Regions from separate parts of the Homo sapiens genome. Here region 1 is linked to region 2. Evidence: fine-mapped expression QTL. Tissue or cell type: unexposed skin. Region 2 holds a variant in brackets; the other region holds the start of a gene. All regions are shown on one strand. Distances are from middle to middle.

Evidence for each region. PIP is the estimated chance that this variant, and not a neighbour inherited with it, causes the effect.
Region 1: CFAP91 starts here. The variant in region 2 is fine-mapped to the expression of CFAP91 in unexposed skin (GTEx, PIP 0.96).

Annotation. Positions count from the first base shown.
Region 1 is chr3:119,698,431-119,706,538 of GRCh38, forward strand. CFAP91 (cilia and flagella associated protein 91) reads left to right here and starts at 4,592. Exons shown (of 18, transcript NM_033364.4): 1 at 4,592-4,792. The coding sequence starts at 4,669. It overlaps LOC105374064 (a long non-coding RNA gene), which reads right to left and starts at 4,613. Exons shown (of 3, transcript XR_924391.4): 1 at 4,066-4,613; 2 at 2,762-2,991; 3 at 1,438-1,987. RefSeq lists enhancers at 2,093-2,492, 2,212-3,411, 4,078-4,757, 4,751-4,800, 4,851-4,910 and a silencer at 4,471-4,640.
Region 2 is chr3:119,769,618-119,777,725 of GRCh38, forward strand. No RefSeq gene overlaps it. Among named protein-coding and RNA genes, the nearest start is that of NR1I2, 8.4 kb to the right of the region's middle. The variant G/A (reference allele first, on the strand shown) is at 4,528.

The DNA of each region.
Region 1 (8,108 bases), 71 kb before region 2:
TGTCAGATTTTTCTCACTGTCATAATTTTCTCAGTTATAATCTTTTGCAAAGGTGGTTTTACTGGCCTAAGAGATATGGATGAATTCAGGGTGAACAGGACATTTGAGGTCTCTGGTCTCACAGAGCTTACATTCTAGTGGGAGGAGATATAATAAATAAGCAAATCAGTAACATTTCAGTGCTATAAAAAAAATCAAGGTAATAGTGTCTTCGGATGTGTTTATGGAGGCTGCTGGCTGTTGACTACCTTAGATAGTTTATCTGATAGAATGAGGAAAAGAAGTCTTTCTTCTTCTTCTTTTCTTTCTTTTTTTTTTGAGACAGAGTCTTGCTCTTGTTGCCCAGGCTAGAGTGCAGTGGTGCCATCTCAGCTCACTGCAACCTCCGCCTCCCAGGTTCAAGCAATTCTCCTGCCTCAGCCTCCTGAGTAGCTGGGATTACAGGCGCCTACCACCACGCCTGGCTAATTTTTTTGTATTTTTAGTAGAGACGGGGTTTCACCATGTTGGTCAGGCTGGTCTTGAACTCCTGGCCTCAGGTGATCTGCCTGCCTCAGCCTCCCAAAGTGCTGGGATTACAGGCGTAAGTCACCATGGCTGGCTGAGGAAAAGTCTTTCTGATGAGATTGCCAGAGGCGTTTAAACCTGGGCAACTCCATTTTGAGTAGGGGCTAGGTAAAATAAGGCTGAGACCTACTGGGCTACATTTCCAGATGGTTAGGCATTCTAAGTCACAGTATGAGACAGGAGGTCAGCACAAGATACAGGTCATAAAGACCTTGCTGATAAAACAGATTGCAGCAAAGAAGCTGGCTAAAACCCACCAAAACCAAGATGGCCATGAGAGTGACCTCTGGTTTTGCTCACTGTTACACTCCCACAGTAGCATGACAGTTTACAAATGCCATGGCATGTCAGGAAGTTACCCTGTATGGTCTAAAAGGGAAGGCATGGATAATCCACACCTTGTTTAGCATATCATCAAGAAATAATCAGAGCCCTCGGGGGTGCTCTGTCTGTGGAATAGCCATTGTTTTATTCCTTTACATTCTTAATAAACTTGTTTTCACTTTATGGACTCGCCCTGAATTCTGTCTTGCGTGAGATCCAAGAACATTCTCTTGGGGTCTGGATGCAGACCCCTTTCCGGTATAGAGAGAACATTTTAGGTGATGTCATATGTTGAGGAGCTAGCTGTGAGAAGATAAGGAGGTGGGAGTGAGGAACATTGAGAAGAAGAAACGAAAAGTGGGCGGCTCTGAGAACGTAGCTGTACCCCAGACAGAAAAGTACTATACCATTATTATATTGTACTTTGCTTCTGTGTCAGCTTTCTCTATCATCCAGTGAGCTGTACAAATTATCTCAAAATCTTTAACACCTATTATATAGTAGACATTCAGTAAATTTATTTAACAAAGGGATGGATTTAGTAATCATTTCATTAAGATTTCATGTACCAGATACCTCAGAGATACAAAAATGACCAGGTGAAGGGCTGTGCCCTCAGTGAACTCAAAGTTGTGGGAAGCAGAGTTGTGAACAATTACTGATTACTAATACAAGGTGGTCAATGCTATTGGTGCTACTACAGCATTGGAAGGATGATATCTCACTGTATTTGAAAGATATGAGGAAACTGCATAGAAGTGGCAAAGTTAGAGGTGAGTGTTGAAATGTACCTAAATTAGTTGAGGGGTGTTAAAGAAAAAATTATTCAATGATCTTATTAAGGCATGGACAGGCAGAGTGCGTTCAAGACCATTGCAATAGATATAGGAATTACTGCAACAGGGTCTTGTAGTTGGGGGAGGGATTGGGTTCAACTCCGAATATAGCATAAGCAAGTAGAAATTTATAGCAAAGAGCAGGCTGAGGGTCAGTGGATGAAAAATTACTAAGAGGAAATATCAGAGGTAAAGAGAATTCTGGTTAAACTCATCTCAAAGGATTCTTGCTGAAGACAGCCAGGGTAATCAGACTTCACCTGGGGGTGAAAAGCGAAAGCGAAGGATGAGGACCCCAGTCAGATATCTAGGATGGGGGATTCTTACCAAACTGACATAGCACGGTTCTTTGCTAAAACTGGATTTTACAAGAAAGTACACAGACAGACCTAGGACATGGCTGGTTTTCAAAAACCCCAAGAAGTTTAGGAGTAGAGACAATAAGTTAAAACCAGGAGTATATGCAGAAAGAGTAGTAGGCCAGGAAGCGTATTCAGGAAGTGTCTGTGGATCACATTGAGGGACTAAGTGGCTAAGTTGGCTGGACTTCCTGGTTCAATAGGGACTTCCCTAAGGGGACTTTCCCCTAAGCCAAAATGAGTCATAGCTGCAAGCTAAGGGATTGAAACTTCAACCAATCAAAGGGGACTTTCCCCTAAGCCAAAGTGAGTCCCAGCTGCAAATTAAGGGATTGAAACTTCAGCCAATCATATAGAGAGTTTAAGCTCTAGCTGCAGCCTGATGTTTTTAACCAATCAGGCCCACCAACCTAAGAGAGGAGACCACCCCTCATATTGTGTTATGCCCAATTTCTGCCTCCAAAGAAAGAAGAATTTAAAACAAAAAGGCAGAAATGAAATCCACAGGCAGACAGCCCAGCACTGTGCTCTGGGCCTGGTAGTTACAGATTGACCCCTGACCTAACCGATATGTTATCTATAGATTCCAGACATTGTATGGAAAAGCATTGTGAAAATCCCTGTCCTATTCTGTTCTGTTCCGATTACCAGTGCATGCAGCTCCCAGTCACATACCCACTACTTGCTCAATCGATCACGACCCACTCACGCAGACCCTCTTAGAGTTGTATGCCCTTAAAAGGGACAGGAATTGCTCACTCCGGGAGCTCGGTTTTCGAAGATGTGAGTCCGCCAATGCTCCCAGCTGAATAAAGCCCTTTCCTTCCATAACTCGGTGTCTGAGCGGTTCTTGTCTGTGGCTCGTCCGGCTACAAACCCACAAGTGGATAGAAAATAACCTAATCCTATGGGACAGAAAAAGGAAAAGGGGAGGAGTCATAAGGGGATATAAACATAAGATACCCAAACCAGAAATGGCAACCCTTCCAGGTTCCCTTCCACCACGTGGAAGCTTTACTTTCGCTTTCCCTTTACTTTTGCTTTGGCTTTAATAAATCTTGCCACCGCACAGTCTTTGGGTCCACGCATTTCTCTAGTGAAGCTGTAACACTTGCCACTGTGGTCCACGGCTTCATTCCTTGAAGCCTGTGAGACCATGAACCCTTCGATCGAGAAAAACCTTTGATCGGAAGAAGACTTCTCGTCTCAACATTAAAGGACAAAGAAGCCAACTCTAAGGCATGCCATTAGCTTTAATAATCTGAGTGTAATAAATAATAATGATCATAACGGATTAAAACATCAGATCTGTAAAAAATGCATGCATTCATAATGATATCAAACAAACAAAAACTTTGTGGTTAACTCTGGAGTTTGGTAGGGCACCAACTCATGTCTCTGAAATTTCATAATTAAAAAGAACAAATCCAGCATTTACCCAGTCTTTCCTCTATGAGATTATCCTGGTTATCTCAGGATAACCAATGAGTTGGTATGAAAAGATTCCTTTTATAGAAGAACCTCTGGTAATAATAGAGAATTATTGAAAGGATTAGAAATTCACTGCTCTAGGATAAAAGACTTAAGAGACATACCAAAATGCAACATGAGGACTTTTTTTGGATCTTGACTGGAACAAACCAACTATAAAAGATAATTTGGACTCAAACAGGAAAATTGGAATTATTTATAGTACTAAGGAATTATTGTTAATTTTGTTAGATATGATAACGGTAGTTAAATTTTTAAAATCTATGTCAGTTTGAGATGCAGACTAATTTAAGGGTAAAATAATATTATGTCTAGGATTTCTTTAAAAAAGAGGGGAAGGAAACTGAAACTTGATTGGCAAAATGTTGCTAAATGTTGATTCTGAGGGATGGGTTACTTGAGGGTTTGTTATTAAAAGTAGAATCACTTTTGCTTATGTTTAAAATTTTCCATTATAAATAGTTTTCAAAAGCAGAGCCAGTGCCTACCCCACATCATCTTCTGTTATTTAATGCCCAGGACTCAGAAAGGGTCAGCAGTCTCAGATCAACAGTTACTGATGTCCTAACCCATCCTAAACACTGATGCTAATGAGTGTGGGGCAAAGTTCACAGCGTGCTAAGGAGCAACATTTAGGAACCTGACTGGATTCCGCAGCTCTCGGGACAAGCCCCCTGGAAAAGGGCTGGGGGGAGGGGCGGGGAGGCACCCAATTATTCTAGAAGGTTCTGAGATCTCCCAGGGATTTCCGAGAGGCTACGAGGTGTAACTGGCAAATCAATGACTTAAGAGTAGCTTTCTCCCAGCCTCCCCGCTGGCTCTGGAGTATAGAGGGAAGCCAGCCTTTTCCTCCCCCATCCTGCCCCTCCCCTCTCTTCTCATCTTCCCCTCCACTCTCCTCCTGACCCTGGCCTGGCCACTCCTGCTTTCACTTCTCTCCACTCCTCTTCGGCCCCGCCCCGCGGCCTCCTCCCTCCTCCTTGCCCCGCCCCCTATCCCTGCGCGCCGGCGGCCGTTACCATAGCGACGTGCACGCAGTAGCCAGGCCTGACCCGCTGGTCCCTTGCTGGCGGGAGGAAAGAGGCGGCACCATGAGCCACGCAGTAACCATCGAGGAGCCCCAGGCCCAGCCGCAGGTGTCTCAAACTCGGTACCGGGAGAGGTCGCGGGCTGGGAGCCACATCTCCTCCAATCGAGCGTATGATTTTCTGTACGGTAAGGACCGCCGCAGACCTTCCTCCGCGTCCGTCGCCTCCTAGGCCAGGTGGGCTCCCAGATGGTGGGACCTGGCCAGGGGCATGGCGAACGAAACACGACCCTCTGGACTGACCTCTTGCCCACGGTTGTCCTTGGTCGGGTGGGGGCAGCTCCGAGCCCTCCAGGTGGCCGCACTCAGGTTGGGGTCGGGGGTTCGGGTACATCGAAAGGCGCGGGTGCGCTCCGCTTCGGGGGGCGATTTTCCTGAAACCTGTTCCGGGCGTTTTGGTACCCAGAAAGTGTGCAACGATTTGTACACTCGGAGATTCACTCAACGTTCCTGCATAAAATGCCCTACAAAAATGATCTTTTCTCTCCAACTCTCTGGGCAAATCCAAGTTGGGCGAAAAGAAGTGCCAGTTTATCCCATGCTTGTTTTTAGGTTTTTTGTTGTTGTTGTTGTTTGTTTTTTTTAACTTCTGCGTCAAAGCATTGCTTATAGACTGGGTCCGCTGGCTCCTCTTGGGCCAATAAAACCCCAGTTTATTTTAACGGCTTGGTTGTCCATTTTATGTTTTCTCTCTCTCCACGCTCCTTGAGTTCCTTAAGTTCCTGTTCTACACATTTTTGTAGCCTTCTGAGCACCTATTCTAGTGCTGATACATATACTAGGCGCTTCAATAAATAAATGTTTATTGAATTTGCCGTGGCAAGAACTGTAACCAGCTATAAGCATGATTTTTTCCAATTTTGCCCTCTGCAATCCCAGGTTTTTCACCTGAACCTTGCATTGCTTTCAGCAATGTGGTGTTGCCTCTGGGAATCCCAGTCTCCTTTGTGTGGGAATCTAGGGTACACATTCCTAGATAGAGGCTGTGTAATGATTGCTGACATATTCTGGCCAGTGTTTTTCTGTATTTACTCTTGGTTTTGTGAAATAAATCAAGTTAGCTCCTGTAAACACATCACCATGTTTTTTTTTCACGGGTAATTTGAGAAGGAGGACAAACATCTCCCCAAAGTATTTATTAAGCTGGTTGTTTCTTTGATGCCGAAGTGTCTCTTTTGCAGAGGAATTGCTAAATGTTTCCATGTCCCTTGCTAAGAACAGAAATTCACTCAGAGTAGATCAAATAAAAGTTTGGATTGTTATAAAACAATCTCGCCGCTAGTCATGGACAGGAAGCGAAGTATAGCCAGGGCGGATGAGAACCTGGATGGGGAAAATCAGAACTAAGATGCTGTGCTCTCCTGCTTTCTTTCTTTGACCTTATGACCTTTCACCTTGTTAGGGTTGCCACATTTAGCAAATAAAAATACAAGAGGCACCGTTAAGCTTGAATTTCAGATAATGAATAATATTTTAGTATAAATTTTTGTCCTGTGCAATATTTTGGAACACATTTATACTAAAAAATTATTCATTGTGTATCTGAATTTAAATTTAACTGGGCATCCTGTATTTTATCTGGCAACTCTAGCCTTCTTTCTATGTATAATCAAGCCCCAAGTAATGATATTTCGGTCAACAGTGGACTACATGTATAAGGATGGTCCCATAAGATTATAATGAAGTTGAAAAACTCCAATTACTTCGTGACATTGTAGCTGTCATAACATTGTAGCCCAATGCATCACTTTTTCTGTGTTTAGATATACAAATACCATTGTGTTACAACTGTCTACAGTATTCAGTACAATAACATGCTGTATGGGTTTGTAGCCTAGGAGCAATAGGCTATACTATATAGCCTAGGTGTGGAGTAGGCTATACCAGCTAGGTTTATGTTAAGTACCCTCTGATATTTACACAACGATAAGCTCACCTCATAACCCGTTTCTAAGAACGTATCCCCATCATTAAGCAACACATCTCTATGCTTGCTTCCTTCCATCTGACAGAAAGCCTCTTGTGTATGGATTTCTCTTACTATGATAGGGACTAGGGTGGCGTGCTTCTTGACTAATTAGCCCTAAAGCTCACCACCAATTGTATAGCGTCTTTGTGTATTGTAGCTGAAAATTTAAGTTAGAAATTTAAGATTGGTTGTTGGCTGGCCAATGAATTGACTGGCCTTGGGCCAGGTTTCCACCTTGACAGAACTGTGGTGGTGCAAAGATGAACACCTTTCCAGGTTCTTTTACCCTTCCTTATGAAGCCCTATGTGATTAGTTCCCTAGTTACTTCTCTGGCCTCTTATCTACTCTCTTTCCCCTCCTTCATTCTGCCTCATTTGTCCTGGTTTCTTTGCTATTCTTCAGACGTATCAGGCATGTTCCCATCCTAGGGACTTTGCTGTTCTTCAGATGTATCAGGCATGCTCCCATCCTAGAATGTTCTTCAGATATCTAACTAGCTAACTCCCTCACCTTCAAGTCTCCTTACATGCCACCTTCTCAAGGGCCTGCCCCGACCACCCTAGTTAAAATTGCAACCCAATCTTCCTTACCCGATTTCTTCTTTTTTAAAAATAACAACCCTCAAATTCTAATGTGTAATTTGCTAGTTTATTATGTTTGTTGTTTGTTGTCTCTCTCTCATGAAGTCAAAGATTTTTGTCGTTTTGTTGATGTATTCTAAGCACCTAGATAGAGTAGCCAGTCAATAAACATGTGTTGAATGAAGGAGCAAAAAGAGCCTGAGCCTCTTGCAGCTTTTCAGCCTTGGTGGGAATATCCAATGTCTGCATTCAGTAAATCGTATTTGTTGGGTTACTAATGAATTATTAGGTTTTAGGAATTGACACACATTATCCAAATTCAAAAGAGACTTGTTTCTAAATCACAATTCCCAAATTATTAATTTCTATGGAGAAATATGTGTTACCATGTTATCTAGACTAGCTGGTCAGGGTATTTGCCTCCCCAGAGACAAGTCTACTTGGGAAATCAAGTGTATCCAAAGGCTGCTTGTTAATTTAATGGCAAATCAGTTGATTTTAAAGGGTGGTACAGTATAGTCAATCATGAATATTCTTCATCACTTTAAAGATATACCTGATAAACAGATACTTATAATAGCAGGGCAATATTTTGTTGAACTTTGTAAAAATAACAGTTCCATCATCAGCAAACTTACAAACTTAAGGGGTGAATTCTGAAGATAGCTGATTTTTTTTTTAACCGTGTTCACCAATTCTGAGATATCATGTGGTTTGCATCTTTCTAGTGCACCAAATATGGGAGATGGTATAAATGTATTGCTTCTTTCACTTGCAAATTGGCATAGTGCGTATATACAAGGTCTTTCCCTTGAAGAATTTTTTGGGTTACCCAGGCTCAAAAGGAGTTTTGTTCATAGGAGAGAAGAAAGTGTGTTCAGGGTGTAGTACTT
Region 2 (8,108 bases):
AGTACTTTAAAAAAAAAGTGCTTCTTGGGTTTCACCTCGGGCCAATTAAGATAGAATCTTTAGAAGGGGAGCCCAAGCAAACGGATTTTTTTTTTAAAGTTTCCCAAGTGATTTAATGTACATTCCAAATTGAGAATAGATGACGTGTTTCCCAAGGAAATTGTCCCTCTCCAAGCATTTACCATTCAGACTTACTACAGAAGATATGTCTTCAGTCCAGGTTCTAATTATATTTTCTTTGTAAAGCATAAAGAATTTCAAAGAAAAAAAATGTGTGAGAAAACATTGATACTGGACATAGTCATAACACTTGGTACTTCCTCAATAACACACTTGATAGTAATTTCCTGCGTAATCGTCTCTCTCACTGGCGTGTGAGGGCAGGGCAGCAGCTGTACCTAGTGAGTTCATTTGTTTTCATTTGCAGTGCTTAGCCAGTCCAGTCTCTGGCACCTATCAATCCCTTAGTAGGTATTTATTGAATGAAATTCTACATACTTAATGTTTGTAAAAGTAAACATGTGTGTGGTTTTAGAGATCATTTATTATGTCTTGGCATATTACGGTATGAAATGAGTTTCAAGGACATAATTCTAATTTATAACATTCATTCCTTATAAACGTTTAACTTTTTGTGATTCAACTTGTGAATGTTATTATCAAGGAACCAAGTAAGTCATAAAGGAAGGGAGAGGCCTTCTGTATGACATCCTAAAAGGAATTTATCCCATTTATCCTTGTACAAAAGACATTCGACAGCTTAAGAAACCTCCAACAGAAGTTTCAGAGAAGAAGCAAAAATGTTCTTTTCACTGTTTCTTTTATTTTTAATAAAAATTAAAGATATTTTATTAAAACATATCTATAAAATCAGCTTTCAATTATGTCAGAATGAAGAGGTCAGCAATACTCCTCCACTAAAAAAAAAAACCATACAACTGGACAAAATTGACAAAAGCATCCAGGGAACTAGAAATCTACTAGAGATGGGCAGCAAGTTGAAAAGCTCCTAGAGATTCAAGGAGAAACAGCAGAAGGCTAATTCTTTCCCCCACCTCCCATCAAGCTCAATCAGCAAGAATCGTAGTTTTCCAGTTTGGAGTTGGCCAAAAACCCAGTGGCTCTTCTGCCAGAGGAGAAATACTTATAAAGTTTTAAATTTCAATATTTAGGGTCGAGAAGTGGCATGAAATTTTGTGACTTTGCATATACTAAAAGTAGCAAACTCAGAAATGAATAGGGAAAGGCCACAGCTTTGTTAGCCCAAGGATGCAGTCCCAGTTGGGGTGAGCAGCAAACCAACCAGAGTGCTAATGGGGAGATCCTGGAAGGGTTGAGACAAGTTTTCCACATACCCCTGGCTGACTGAGAATACGAAAAAACTAACCCAGAAAAAGGAAAAAAAAGGAGAAACATAAGACTAAAATCAAGTTGGGACAAATAGAAAATAAATCACAAAATGATACACCTCAACTCAACTTTAACATGCATTAAATATTAGTGTATTAAACACTCCAAATAAAAGGCACAGGTGTCAAAATGGTTTTTTGTTTTGTTTTTTTTTTCTTAAAATTGTTTTGAAGAAAAGCAAAACCAAGCATATGATTTACAAGAGACACTTTTAAATATAAAAACAGTGATAATGAAAGTAAATAGGTGGAAAATGATACAACAGGAAAATATTTAGCATAAGAAAACTAGACTGGTTCTATTACTACAGCTGGCAAAAAAAAAATTTCAAAGCAGGCAGTATTACCAAAGATAAAGTAGGATATCTCATAAAAATAATAAATGAAAACCAAATAGTCTTATCCATTTATGCCCCTAATAACTGAGCTTCAAAATTCACAAAGCAAAACTAACAAAAAAAGAAGTAAACAAATCTCCAAAGTTGAAGACTTAACACCTTCTTTTCAATAGCATAGAACAATTAGACAAGAAATCAGTAAAGTTTAGAAGATTTTAACAAAACTACATACCTTTGCTTAACACTAATCAGAACACTATACCCAACCACAGCAGAATACATATTCTTTTCAAGTGTACATGGAACATTTATCAAGATAAGCCATATTTTGAGCCACAAAACATCTTTATATGTTTCAAACAATGGAAATCTTATAAAATATGTTATCTGACCACAGAAACAACTAACTTAGAAATCAGGAACAGATACATATTTTTAGAAAATCCCCAAACATTTGGAAGTTAAACAGTGTATCTCTAAATAACCTTTGGATCAAAGAAGAAATAACATGTGAACGATTGAGAAAATACAACTTCAAAATTTGTAGGATGTAGCAAAAGCAGTGCTTACAGAGAAATGGTAGCTATATGCACTCATGTTAGAAAAGAGGCTTAAAACCAGTTATCTAAGTTCCCACTTAAGGAAGATGCAGAAGAAAGGCAAAGTAAAACCAAAGTAAGTAGTAGGAGAGATGTTTTAAGATACACAAGAGCAGAAATTAATGAAACAGAAAGCTTAAAATGATAGAGAAAATTGACAAGAACAAAATTTTATTCTTTGAAGAGACTGGTCAAAAAGGAGAAATCACAAATTATCAACATCACGAACAAGAGGGGTATCACTATAGTGGAAGAGGGAATGTCACTATAGATCTTACAGGCATTAAAAGGATAATAAAGGAATTTTTGAAAACTTTATGACAATAAATATGATAGCTTAGATGAAATGGAAAAAGTCCTTGAAGCAGAATTTACCAAAAAATATACAATGATAAATAGAAAATCTATATAACCTTGTATCTATTAAGTAAATTGAATTTGTTATCAAAAACATTCCCATAAAGAAACATCCAGGCCCAGATGGTTTCAGTGGTGAATTCCATCAAACATTTAAGGAAGAGATAATGCCAATCTTATACAAACTCTTTCAGAAAATATAGAGGAAGCAGTTTGCATCACATTTTAAGAGACCAGTATAATCATATCATCTGACAGAGATAAGAAAATAAAGTTACAGGTCTATATCATGATTACAATTGCAGCATTGGTGGTATAGTGGTGAGCATAGCTGCTTTCAATGATTATGAATGCAAAAGTCGTTAATGAAATATGACCAAAACAAATCAGAATTCCAAAAAAGAGAGAGACAGAGTATTATTCTGGACAAAGCACATTTATTCCAAAGATGCAGGGTTAGTACAGCATTAGAAATATCAATGTAATTCAACATGTTAATAGAAAAAAGATAAAAAGCATATGATCTTAACTGAAAAATTAACACAATTCTACACTCATTCACGTTTAGAAATTCTCAAAAAACTAGGATAAAAAGGAACTTCCTCAACTTGACAAAAGCATCTATAAAGGTGACAGCTAGCATCATAGCTAATGGTGAAATATTGAATGTCCCCCACAAGGATATCTACCCCCACCACAATGCTATTTAATACTGTATTAATCGTTCCAACTAATGCAATAAGGAAAGAAAAAAAGCATAAAGATCAGAAAAGAAGAAAACAGTCTTTCTTTGCAGAAAACATAATTATTTACATTGAACATCCTCAGTAATACTAAGGAATAACTACTAGAACTATTTAATAAAGTCACAGTTATATCTCATCAATATAAATATATATACATACAAATATATTTTCTATATACTAGCAGCAAACAATTAGAACAGCGGTGTTTTTTTTTAAATTGACTTAGTATCCAAAAAACGTAAAACACTTAAGAATAAACTTAACAAAAGACATGGAAGGCCTCTGCACTAAAAACTACAAAACACTGCTGAGAAAAATAAATGATCTAAATTGAGAGTTATGCCATGTTCACATGTTGGAACACTCAATGTTGTTTTGTAGTCAGTTCTCCTCAAATCGATCTGGCAATTCAATGCAATCACAATCAATATACTAACAGGCATTTTAATAACTTTTCAAAGTTGATTCTAAAATTTATACGGTAAAGCAAAGAATACAGGAATAGCCAAAATGGCTGGGCACAGTGGCTCACACCTGTAATCCTAGCACTTTGTAGGGGTGGTGTGGGGGCTGAGGCAGGAGGATCACTTGAGGCCAGGAGTTTGATACCAATCTGGGCGACAAAGTGACACCCCATCTCTACAAAAACATTTTTTTTGAAATTATCTGGGCCTCGTAATGCACACCTAGCTACTCAGGAGGCTGAGGCAGGAGGATCACTTGAGCCCAGGAGTTTGAGGCTGCAGTGAGTCATGATCACACCACTGCACTCCAGACTGAGTAACAGAGTGAAAAAATGTCAGAAAGAAGGAAAGAAAGAGAGAGGGAGAGAGAGAAAGAAAGAAAGAAGGGAAAGAAAAGGAAAGAAGGAAAGAAAGAAAAGAAAGAAGGAAGGAAGGAAGGGCCAAAATAATCTTGATAAAGGGCAAAGTTGAAAGGCTCATGCTACCTACTTCAAGACTTGCTATAAAGCCTCAGTGATCAAGACAGTGTGATATTGGCATAAGGATAGATAAATAGACATATATTGCAGAATAGGGAATCCAGACATCATCTCATACATGTATGGTTAACATAC[G/A]TTTTTTTTACTAAAGTTGCAGAGCTAAATAATGGGGAAAAGAGAGCCTTTACAACAAATAGTGCTGGAATAACAGAATAAATGAAAGAAGGAAAAATAGATCTTGACATCTACAACACACCAAACACAAAAATTAATTTGAGATGGGTTTCAGAATTAAGTTAAAAACTTAACAAATATCTAGAAAAAAAAAAAACAGAATGTCTTTATGACTTATCTACAGGACTCCAAAGACACTGGTCATTTAAAAATGACTTACAGATGCCTGCAGCTCATTCTGGGGAAAGGTCATTCATTGTTATGACCAATGTGGATACAAAGCCTAACACAAAAAGGTCTTGAACTTTTGGATTAGGTTGTTCTTGTATTGATCACTGTTCTCAAAAGGAAAGCCTCAACACAAGCTGTCTACCTATATCATCCCCTTGTACAAAGAAGGGAACTGAAACATAAAGAAGAAACAAGTCGTCCACTAGCATTGGTGACATCAGCAAAATTGTAGAATAGGCAGCTCCAAACTCCCGTCCCTCTACAGAAATACTGAAAAACAAGAAGCAACTGTCAGAGCCAACTTTGCTAGAACTCTGGAAAAGAGTCAGAAGTTTACAGCAATTAAGAAAGTGCTGAACCAAGAAAAAGCAACTTAAAAATGATAGGACATTTGCCAGTTTTTTAAATTGGGGGGAAAATGATAGGAAAACTTTGTGGCATTTTTACTTGTCCTTGCCACATCCCCTCTTTGTCTCAGCAGCAGTCTTAAAGACAGCATCCCGTGTTCCCAGTATGGGACCCTGAACCCTGGTTCTGGAGGGAGCAGAGCAGGCTTCAATTGCAAATTACTGGAGTTTGTTTGTCTGTTCTAACCTATTCGGGAGCTAACTGAAGAACTTATATGAGGTATGCATCTCGTTTTGCCTAACTGAGAACCCGTGAAGAGGGAGAAGTGACAATCATTGCTCAGAAACATTGTAAGGTGAATACAAAACCTGCAGCCACCTGGGGGCAAAAGATTAAGGTTCAGACATACAATAGAATGTCTGAGGTCTGGGAGCAAAAGCCAGGAAGAGAGTTCCTTTGGGAAATTAGGGCAATTCAAAACTGCCAGTGTGTATTCGGGAGTTTAGAAAGCAACATGCATGCCAGGACAGGACGCATGTTCAGAAAAGACCTGAGAAGACCCTAACCACTGGCTGATCTCTGGGCTCAGTACAAGTAGAAAGTAAAGGCTCATGGGAATATATATATATATATGTGTATATATATATGTGTGTGTGTATATATATATATATATATATTTTTTTTTTTTTTTTTTTTGAGACAGAGTCTCGCTCTGTCACCCAGGCTAGAGTACAGTGATGTGATCTCAGCTCACTACAACCTCTGCCTCTTGGGTTCAAATGATTCTCCTGCCTCAGCTTCCTGAGTAGCTGGGATTACAGGTGCCTGCCACCACACCTGGCTAATTTTTGTATTTTTAGTAGAGACAGGATTTTGCCATGCTGGCCAGGCTGGTCTCAAACTCCTGACCTCAGGTGATCCGCCTCCCTTGGCCTCCCAAAATGCTGGGATTACAGGTGTGAGCCACCATGCCCGGCCTCATGGGGAATTTTAAATGGCCTACCAAAGTGTTAATAGTGCCCCAAGACAGAGCCAATCCACAAAGACTAGAAGAGGAGGGGGTTTTACTTGTTTTGTTTTACTTAGCTCCTGGCAATCAAGGACAGCTCTATCAAAAACACTGGCTGAACACAAGCTAAGCCTTCAGCAATCAAGACAAGCAAACCGTAAGGAACTGGAAGAATCTGACTTCCAGAGTTAAAACACTGTAATATTTGAATGTTCAATTTTTAAAAATCACAAGGCATACAAAGAAACAGGAAAGGATAATGCATTCAAAGGAAAAAAAATAAACTGACAAAACTGTCCATGAGAAAGCTCAAACATTGAAATTATTAGGCAAAGACTTTAAAAACAACTGTCTTAAATGTATTCAAAAAACTAAAAGAAATCATGGAAACGAAGAAAGGAAACCAGGAAAATAATATATGAACAAAACGAGAATATCAATACAGAGATAGAAATTATAATGAGGAATCAAATAGAAATTATGAAGGTGAGAAGTATGATAACTGAAATGAGAAATTTCACTAGAGGAGTTCAACAGCAGGTTTGATCAGGCAGAAGAATGATTTAACAAACTTGAAGATAGGACAATTGAAATTATCCATTCTGAGAAGCAGAATGAAAGAGTGAAGAAAAGTGAACAAAGACTAAGATACCTGTGGAACACCATCAAGTGGACCAACATATGCATTATGAGAGTCTCAGAAGGACAAGGGAGAGAGAGAGACAGAAATTATATGTGAATGGCCAAAAGTGTCCCAAATGTGATAAAAGACATGAGTCTACATATCCAGGAAGCTCAACAAAGCCCAAGCAAAATAAACACGAAGAGATACACCAAGATACAGTATAGGCAGATTGTCAGAAGACAAAGAGAATCTTGAGAACAGTGAGAGAGAGGCAACTCATCCTGTACAAGGGAGCCTTAATAAGATTAACAGTTGATTTCGCATCAGAAACCATGGAGGCCTGAAAACAGGAGGCCTGATGCCACTTCACACCTACTAGGATGGATATAATTTTTTTTAATGGAAAATAACAAGGAGAGGATGTTGGAGAGGACATGAAGAAATTGGGACCCTTGTACATTGGTGGTGGGAGTGTAAAACGATGCCACTGCTGTGGTAAAGCTTGGTAGTTCCTCAAAAAGTTAAATGTGGAACTACCACATGACCCAATGTCTTAGTCCATGCAGGATACTACAACAAAAATACCATAAACTGGATAGTTTATAAACAACAAAAATTTATTTATCATAGTTATAGAGACCGAGAAGTCCAAGGTCAAGGTGCCAGCAGATTCAGTGACTGGTGAAGGGATCTATGATCCCTTCCTGGATCATAGATGACAGTCTTCTCACTATAACTTCAGGTGGAAGAACGGGCATCAATCATGAGGGCTCCACCTTCATGACCTAATCTCCTCCCAAATGCCCCACCTCCAAAACCATCACCTTGGGGGTTAGGATTTCAACATATGAATTTTGAGTGGACTCAAACACCTAGCAGTTCCACTACTAGGTATATATCCAAAAGAAATGAAGCAGAAGCTCAAACAAATATTTATATACCAATGTTTATGGCAGCATAATTCATAGTAGCCTAAAGATAAATGGATAAATTAAAGATGCTATATGCATACAATGGATTATTATTCAGCCATAAATAGGAATGATGTTCTGACCCATGTTACAACATGCATGAACATTATGCTCACTGAAATAAGCCAGACACATAAGGACAAATATTGTATGATTCCAATTACATAAAATACCTAGAATATGCAAATTCATGGAGATAGAAAGTAGATTAGAGGTTACCAGGGACTCAAGGAAGATAACAATGGGGAGTTGCTTAATGGATGGAGTTTCTATTTGGGATGATGAAGGGGTTCTGGATATGAATAGTGGTGATGGTTGCAAAACATTATAATTAATGCTACTGAATTGTACACTTAAA